Linked DNA regions of Homo sapiens: region 2 is reported to be linked to region 1. Evidence: microRNA targets listed by miRTarBase, many of them from high-throughput screens and not tested one by one. Region 1 holds a microRNA gene; the other region holds the end of a gene's coding sequence.
Evidence for each region. Region 1 holds the annotated microRNA hsa-miR-503-5p (UAGCAGCGGGAACAGUUCUGCAG, at 1,407-1,429, shown strand). A microRNA usually pairs through its seed, bases 2 to 8, with sites in the 3' UTR of a target mRNA and lowers its output. Matches are read on the target gene's strand: a 7mer-m8 pairs with bases 2 to 8, a 7mer-A1 pairs with bases 2 to 7 and ends in A, and an 8mer does both.

Region 2: the mRNA of CACUL1 is a reported target of hsa-miR-503-5p. Seed matches in the 3' UTR shown: 7mer-A1 at 3,063-3,069 and 7mer-A1 at 2,392-2,398.

Annotation. Positions count from the first base shown.
Region 1 is chrX:134,543,505-134,547,799 of GRCh38, reverse strand. MIR503 (microRNA 503) reads left to right here and starts at 1,402; the gene lies at 1,402-1,472. MIR503HG (MIR503 host gene) reads left to right here and starts at 1,170. Exons shown (of 3, transcript NR_024607.1): 1 at 1,170-1,248; 2 at 3,003-3,086; 3 at 3,801-4,295. It overlaps MIR424 (microRNA 424), which reads left to right and starts at 1,089; the gene lies at 1,089-1,186.
Region 2 is chr10:118,682,872-118,687,166 of GRCh38, forward strand. CACUL1 (CDK2 associated cullin domain 1) reads right to left here. Exons shown (of 9, transcript NM_153810.5): 8 at 3,727-3,770; 9 at 1-3,297. The coding sequence ends at 3,257. Among named protein-coding and RNA genes, the nearest start is that of CACUL1, 70 kb to the right of the region's middle.

The DNA.
Region 1 (4,295 bases):
CAGTTGGATAATTTAAATGTCTATTACTTGTGCTGAAATGTATTTAACTTTCAAAACCATTACAGTTAGTGCTGATTTTGTTGTTTTAACTTTTAGGTTTGTGATTGAGGATTTCAGAGTGGGTTTTTTTTTTAATGCTTAATTGAATATTGTATTCAAACAAAAAGAGGGCATGCATGTGACTTGTTGCTAATATGTGTCCATTTTAAAAAGGAAAAAGTGGTATCTAATGAGTTAATCATTAAGGAGTATGCGCAGTGCCGGCCATTTCAGGACATGAAAGTTTCTGTGGAGCTGCTTGAAACAGGAAGGAGCGACTTGACATCAAGTATTTAAACTTTTTGATTTATGTTTTGATAGATGACATTGATAGGTATAAATTATAAATAAGTTTGAGTAACCAGTTTAATATGTAAACTGGTATTTCATCTACAGAAAGTTCTCTGTCATTGTTTGGAGCTCTTTAAAATAACTCAGCTGGGGTGTTTAAGAATAAAAACACTAGCAGTGAGTTAGGACATCTAATGCTTTTAAAGATAGATGTATATGTCGCAACGATAGTGTAAGAATCAGCTGAAGCTACCGGTGAGGTTTTGGTTATTTTCTTTCAGTCATCTGAGTCCATTTCCAATAAAGGTTGTTTTTTTGTTTCGTTTTTTGTTTTTTTTTAATGGGGACAATGAATGAGACTTGTAATATGCAGCAGGAAGAAGTTTCACCAAGACTTTGAAACTGGCAAGAATGATCCAGATGTCCAATTGCCTCTACTTAACCTTATTCGTCTACCTTCAGAAGTAATTAGATTCTCTTCCACACTAATTCGTATCCCCCATCGCTCTGCTTTTCACCCACTACGTTGTTCCAAGATTCATCCTCAGGGGAAAAAATTGAGAGCCACACTTTCGGCTCCACCTGCAGCTCCTGGAAATCAAATGGTGAAGTTATAAGAAGTACCTTAACTTGGAGTGAAGTGGCCTAGTCATAAGTTTTGCCCTATTCCTTGCCAGGGGGTGGGGCGGGGCTTCCTTCAGTCATCCAGTCTTTATTCACCCGCAGGTACCCCCAGATCGATCCCCCTTCATTGACTCCGAGGGGATACAGCAGCAATTCATGTTTTGAAGTGTTCTAAATGGTTCAAAACGTGAGGCGCTGCTATACCCCCTCGTGGGGAAGGTAGAAGGTGGGGTCTGCCGGACGCGTGTTCCTGCCACCAGGTGCCCGCTCCCCGCGAGGCCGGCTCAGGAGCAGGTAGGTGGGCGGGGGCTCGCGTCTCTGTTTCCGGCGGGTCCTCGCCCTTGTCCACGCAGCAGGGCTGTAGTCCGGGGAGGGCAGTATTCCTGGCTAGGCTGGGGCGCATAGGCGGTGCGAGTCGAGGAGAGACGCGGTGCCCGCGCTCAGCCGTGCCCTAGCAGCGGGAACAGTTCTGCAGTGAGCGATCGGTGCTCTGGGGTATTGTTTCCGCTGCCAGGGTAAGTCTGGGACTGCCGTTCGGGCCTACCCAGCAGGTAAGTCTTAGGCCATCGCCTGCGGTGTCGGCCCCGGGAGCAGCGAGACCCAAGATTGCATCAAACGTTTGCCCCGTCTCTGCATATGTGACTGGACGTGAATGATGCTTCATTTTGGCACCCCCTTTCCCTGCTCAGGTAGAATGTAAACAATTGAAAAAAATCCCTTCCCAATCAGAATACCACCCACAGGACAACGAAGAAAACCTATCTTCAGTCCCCACCCACGAAATGCTGGGGGGTGGGGAGGACTGGAAAAGGAGTAAGGGGAGAGGAAGGGTGAGCAGCTGCAAGAAGTCTTTACACCTCTCTGCGGTTCCTGGTAAACGCGCTCATGTCCTGGGTATGGAAGGGACTTAAGAATTCAGGAAAGATCAAAATAACGGGCCTCTTCCCCACTCCCTCGCCCTCCCTTCCCCGCTGCTGGGGGGTTAGGGAGGCTCCGTGGAGCTCCAGCACTCTAGAAGGATCGGGTGAGGCGCGAGGCCTTGCGGGCGGGTGAACCCAAGGTGGGGTGGAAGGCTCCAACCCGCCCAATCTGAGCCCGAGGCCTGCTGAGAAGCATGGGGGCCTTGGGATAGTTCCAGAATGAGGATGTGCGTTTCTAGCTGCTTTGCGCCCTCCTCCCCCAAAAATCTGCTACCACAATTCCAACCCGGCGGCACGCCCCCAAGACTCCTTTGTCGCCCCAGGGGCGGGACCTGAGCTGTCGATTTCAGGAGCCCTTCGTGACTTCAAAAGTCCTGGGCACTGTTGCTCATGAGTGCTGCACAACTGTCGCCCTCTAAAGCCACCTCCATCCCTCACTGGGCTGGCCTCCTGAGCCTTCGGTGAGGAAACGGGGTTCCGAGTTGCCCGCCTGAGAGCTTAACAGTCTGACTAGAAAAGGGCTAATTCGCTTTCTGTGCAAATCTCTTGAGCTAATTATTTAATCTGAAACATGGACAGGTAAAGGACCATTGGCGGGCGTGGGGAGGGAGGTGTGGAATCTTTCCCACACTTTTTGTCACCTTAAAGAAAAAAAAAAGACACCCAAACTCCTCTGGTCTGAATGGGCTGCCTGGAACTGGGCTTCCCGGGGCCAGGAGTGGGCCCCTAGAAGTTTCCCAGTTTGGGGTGGGGCCGGGGTTCCGAAGTCTAGAGCTGGGAGTCGGGTTCAGCGGCCCGAGACGCTGGCTCTCCCAGACTCCCTTGCGCCGGGGCAGTGCGCGGGGGCGGCTCGGGTCCCTCCCGGGCCGGCGGGGACCCTCAGGCTCCCGGGGCGCCGCCCACCAGCCCGACCCGGCGGCCTAGAAATCCCCATTCTGCTCCCGCCTCGCCCCGGCCGGCCAGCGCAGGGCCCCTCAGGCCCGCAATCTCCAGGCTCAAACGGCGAACAGGTCCCCGCATCCGCCTGCCTTTGCACTTGGGGGTGGGAGAGCCACCTTGTGACGCCCCTTCTGCCTCTCACCAGCTTCCCCCTTTCTCCCCGTCCTGTACGGTTCCCCCTGGAGCCAGAAGGAAGCCCGGTGCCAGCCAGCCTTCCTGAAAGACCAAGCCCGCGCCATCCGGCTTCCTCCAGTGGACGCCTGCAGGACCCAGGTGAGACACGGAACCGGTTGGGGACGCGAGCCAGGGATCCTGACCGGTTGGGGGCGGCGAGCAAGGGATCCTGACTTGGGGGCGTTGCCTCCCGGAATCCAAGCGGCCTTTTGCCCGGGTCTCCCGAGATGCATCGAAATTGAGCTCGTCCACACAGCCCCCTGACTGCGTGATGCCCTTTTCTGACTTAAAACATTCCTTGTACCTTTATTTACACGATCCAAGTTGCAGTGTGCCTAGATTTTCCTCCAAGGACAAAAATGTGAATAAAGCAATATTTTAGCCAAACATTTCTGTGTCAATTAAGAAGATTGCAATTCGTTCCAGACTATAAATTCTCTTTAACAACTCCCTAAGGTATTCTTTTAAATTGTTTTTCAGCGTTGCTAAATGTGCATCATAATGTGTGGGAGACTTGTATAAAGTGAATCAATTTATACTCAGCTGATTAATTGACCCGATGTTACCACCTCCAAGGAGGCACCTTTCCACTATTTTCTCATTTTTTCCCCAACACATGTTATTTGTTAGTGAGGAAGCTGCGTGCACGTGGCATTGTATAAAGTTTATTAGACAGACGTGGCCCTTAAACTAGGAAGAGCTTAGTCTAACTCTAAATCTAAAATTCGACATTTCGGTAAGTTGTGAGACAAGATACCCAGGTTGTTTGATAAACCAGAATTGAACATAATTTTTTAAAAATTTAAATCACAGGAATGTTTTTCTTGAAGGCATCCAGCATCTCCAGTTAGCAGTACTGATTTTTTTTCCCCCCAACAAAGGAACACTACATCAACACTGTTGGCGGGGACCTGGACACAGAAGACTCCTGTTTCAAGAAAATACAATCATCTCTCAAAGGCTGTAATTTATATGCATTTTAAAACTCTAGGCATTGAAAACCACCCAAGTGTCCCAAATAGAAGGGTAATATATAATCAATCACTCAGTGTAATATTATACATCCTTTAAAAATGTTATTGGGAAATGTTTTATGATCTGTAAGTCCAAGGAATCCTCTCCCACCATTTCTTTCCCCCCGCTGTTCCCCCATACCCACACTTCTTTGTTCCAATTGGCATGTAAATTTGGTTTTCCCGCCAAATGAGTCAGTCATGATGGGAACCTCAACTGATTTGAACAGATGTGTGTCAATGTTACTTGGAAAACTAGATGTCAATAACCAGGGTCACAGAAAAAGGCAGTGGT
Region 2 (4,295 bases), not on the chromosome of region 1:
ATTGCTGCAAATTTGTTAAAGGGACAGAAGAAAAAGTAGCTTGTCTACAAAATAATGCACAATGCATGCATCTGGGTTTGTGTTTCTTCTCACTAACCTTGCCTAAGAACCATTAGGATAAAAGTCACAACACCAGGTTTTGCTTTCTGCCCCACAAAAAAACAGTAGTTAATTCCTGTCAGGTTAGGGTACAGGTGTGACAACAAAAGGTCACAAAATGACAATGTTACTGAAGCTTAAGGCCAACCTTTAAAACATGTACCGTCTCTCAAAACAATTATCGATTTACTTTTACATGTCATTTTTTCAAGATGACTGACCCGGCTTTCCTTTTAAGGAGCCAGTTTCAGGCTGCACATACATACTAGACAGTTGAAGCAAATCAGCCATTGACTAACCAGACAACCAGCCTGCATGTACGGTTTTGTATCTTCAATGATTTGGGCCTTTAGTGATGTGGTACAAAACCCAGTATGTAATTGGGGTAGAAAAACCATATACTGTACTGGCAAGAATACAAAAAAAAAAAAAAAAAAGGCCAGGTGCAGTGGCTCACACCTATAATCCCAGCACTTTGGGAGGCCGAGGTGGGTGGATCACTTGAGGTCAGGAGTTCAAGACCAGCCTGACCAACATGGTGAAACCCCGTCTCTACTAAAAACAAAATACAAAAAGTAGCCGGGCGTAGTGGCACGTGCCTGTAATTCCAGCTACTCAGGAGGCCGAGGCAGGAGAATCACTTGAACCCAGGAGGCAGAGGTTGCAGTGAGCTGAGATTGCACCACTGCACTCCAGCCTGGGTGAGAGAGTGAGACTCCATCTCAAAAACAAAATATAAGAAAACAGAAGAAAACAGTTTCTGGCAAACAGTCAATATAAAATGAGAGGAAGGAGGAGGAAATCTTATTTCCTCTCATACTGCAAACTCACTCAGAATTTTTTAGAATCCCAATAAATAAGCAAAGTCTATTTCAACTTAAACAGGTCCTTCAAACTGTGATGTGCCTCAAGGGGCCAAGATGATTAACAGCCAGGACATGTAGACTGGGAGACTATGTACAACCTTTCTATAGTGACTTCCAGTCAAGGTTTTGTTGTATTAAGAGCTGACCCATAGCCAGCTGCAGTCACTGTGCAAAAATTTAGAGAAACTAAATTTTGCAAACTTTACTTTGCCCACTTTTTATTAATACATACATAGTAAAAAGAATATATTTCTCCATGAACTTAATAATGCAAAAGCATCCAAAGATTTTAATGCCAATTCACATTATACTGTGATGCTTTTATAGGGAAAGTTCTTTTGTAAAAGAATGCTCTCTCCCAGAAAAAGCATTTGGGTATATTATTAGGATACTGAAGAATTTCTCCACATTTAGAAACATTCCAATTTTATTCCTTTCAGAAAAATTATTAATACCACTCACTCAGACTTCAGTTCTAGGTGTGATTGGTAAGCCTGAAGCAAGCATTCCATTGAGAAAAGTAAAATGTGAATGTCATGATGAATGGAATTCTCCTTGATACTAGAATGTTACCAGTGTAGCAACTTAAACTGTCCAGGTCATAGTGAGAGCCTGTCTATGTTCTTACAGTAATTCAGTGTTCATCGATGCAATCCAGGATGCTCACAGAGTGAATTGAGTCCAATTAAAGTCCACAAAATCCACGAACTCTGGTTAAGTACTTTAAAAAATAAATCTGACAACCTTTATCTTTACTTCTCTGTATAACAGTTTTACAAATCAAGGACTTCAATTATTGGGTGACTTACTTGCTCCCAATATCCCACTTCTAACTCTCCCACCCACACCACTCCCCCCAAAAAATAAACTGAATTGGCAGAGGCAGCTGTATGAAGAACCTGCAGAGCAGACATGCGACAGCATCCCTGGGATGTTTCTTTTCCCCTCAAGTTCTCTGAAGAGGTAAATACTATTAGTCTGATGTTGCCTAGTAGAGAAGCCTATGCTCAATTAAGATTCAAGCAAAATTGAGAAGAAAAGTATTTTTCTCTTGCCACATCTATTTTTCTTGGGCTTTCAACAACAGCTAGAATAAGCTTCAGAAACTTTTATGATGGACTAAAAAGCACTGTGGATGTGGAGAAACAGAAATATAGCTTTGCCACAGCTGGAAGGGAGCCTTAGGACAGCAGTGCTACTTCTTCCCTATCACACTCAAATATAATGTTCAAATGACAGACTTTTTTTAAGTAATTATCTCATTCATTTAAAATGAAGTGATCAGGAACCCCACACCACTGTGTATTTGGACTTAATAACTGTATCTGCTTCCTAGAGCATCGCAGGAAGTAGCTCTCAATAATACTAAGGGAAGCTTCCGTGCTAAAGTACCGCCCATCCCTAAACTAGAGTACTGCCAATACTATAGCAGCTGGTGACAGACATCGTGTTAAGTGGCACAGGGAATGGAAATGCTCTAGGAGAGTTGGTCCCCAACATTAATATGAATATGCTCTGGTGAACCAGGGGAAAATCCGACCCATGTGCAAAAGGTTTCTATTTTCCCACTTAATTAGCATCCTGCTACAGGGCCACACCTGCCATCTTGGTGGGTGAGTTTAGATACCATACACTTCTCCAGGAGGAGTTTGACAACATGGTCACACAGTTGCAAAGTGCACAAAGCTCAAGGCACAGAGTAGAAGAAAGTTGTGAACTGATGGGGGAAAGTTCTAGCAAAAGCAGAGTTAGCATTTTCCTTTAACAAGACTTTCTAATGCTAAACAAAGACCAACTCTTTTAAAAGGGGTTGTTTTGGTTGTGGGTGAAAAATACTGTACTGTAATGATCTGCTTGGTTTTAAAGCAAAAGAGATCCTGACATGTGAAACCAATACACCAAAATGCCAAGTCCACAAATGAACAAAACAAGTGCTTAAAAAAAAAATTCTTCTGCTCTTATATTTTTGGAGGAAGCTGCTGATTTTGGCTGTCAGATTTCACTTAGAAATGGTCACTTTCTGAGATGCTTTTTCCTCACAGAATCTGTAGATAAACTCATTAAAAGATTGTCCCATTTCAAAATCACCCCCAAGTCTAGCAGCAACGTTTTTTTTTTTTTTAGTTTTTGTTTTAAAATTACAAACCAAGTAAGAAGTCCAACATCCTCTTCCATGAACAGCTTTGTGACAGAGCTCCTGAGTGTGTGCAGCCCCCACTGTGCTCTGAATACAGTCTCTGCAGCTCCAGTGTGTCCTCTTTTCAGGAAGGAAAGCATATTCAATACATTCACTATCTGTACCCCCTGGAACTTGCACATGCTGACGAGCTATCTGAAAAAACATCAGAATAGGAAAAAGTATGAAGAGCAGACAGCATTTGATAACAGCAGGAATCTGTTTATTCAACACACATTTCTCACTCCTCTCCCAACTCCCCAAAAAAGGCTTAAAAAAAATCCTCAAAACCATGTGGGGTGGAGGGAAGTAAAAGGGGACTGAGAACCTAAGGAACTGGGACTGGGCTACGATGTCATCCCAGTAGAAACTAAAGAACCTGGTGGCCTCTTTCCAATGCCCTGAGAACCATCGCTACCAGCTGGAGCTGCCACAGCATGCAAAGCATCCTGACCTTGATTACAAGCAGTGCCTTATGAGAACAACATGGGTATCATCAAATTCAATGCACTGTTATCACAGTGCATTAATATGGCTGCTTTACATCACAGAACCATCAAGATGGGAAGGAACATCATTACTTACTATAAGCCAACTCATCCCCAGCTCTCTTCCGGGACTGGTCACCCCTGGGGATAAGAAGAGGCAGTCAACAAAACTGACTTCACATCAAAACAGGAGGAAAGGATCAACATATTTGATAATAAAAGTATAGCAGACATTTCAGTTCTAACCAAACCTATTTAAAAATACATATTAAACATCTTAGAATCCTGATGTACCTCACTATGCTTTCTGCAGATGGAAGAACATGAGCCTTTACCTGTATTAACCAGTTCATCCTCAAACACCTATGAAAGTTCTAATTCCACTTTAGAGTTAAGAAAATAGAGGTTCTGACTAGGCCCTAAGCTACCTACAAATCCTATTTTTGTGTCTCCAGCTTCTCAGACAATAACAGAAATGACTCAAATGCTTAGGTAATGAGAAATAATAATCACTACTAGCCTTTCTTCCTCAGCATTTATAAGTTGATTTCTTCCTGAAACACGATTTTTTTCTCTTTAGGTTTCAGTAATGCCACAGCACACATTCCTGACCTTACCTCACCCTGTCTGCCATCCTTTTGAGGTCTCCTTTGCTGGCTCTACCCA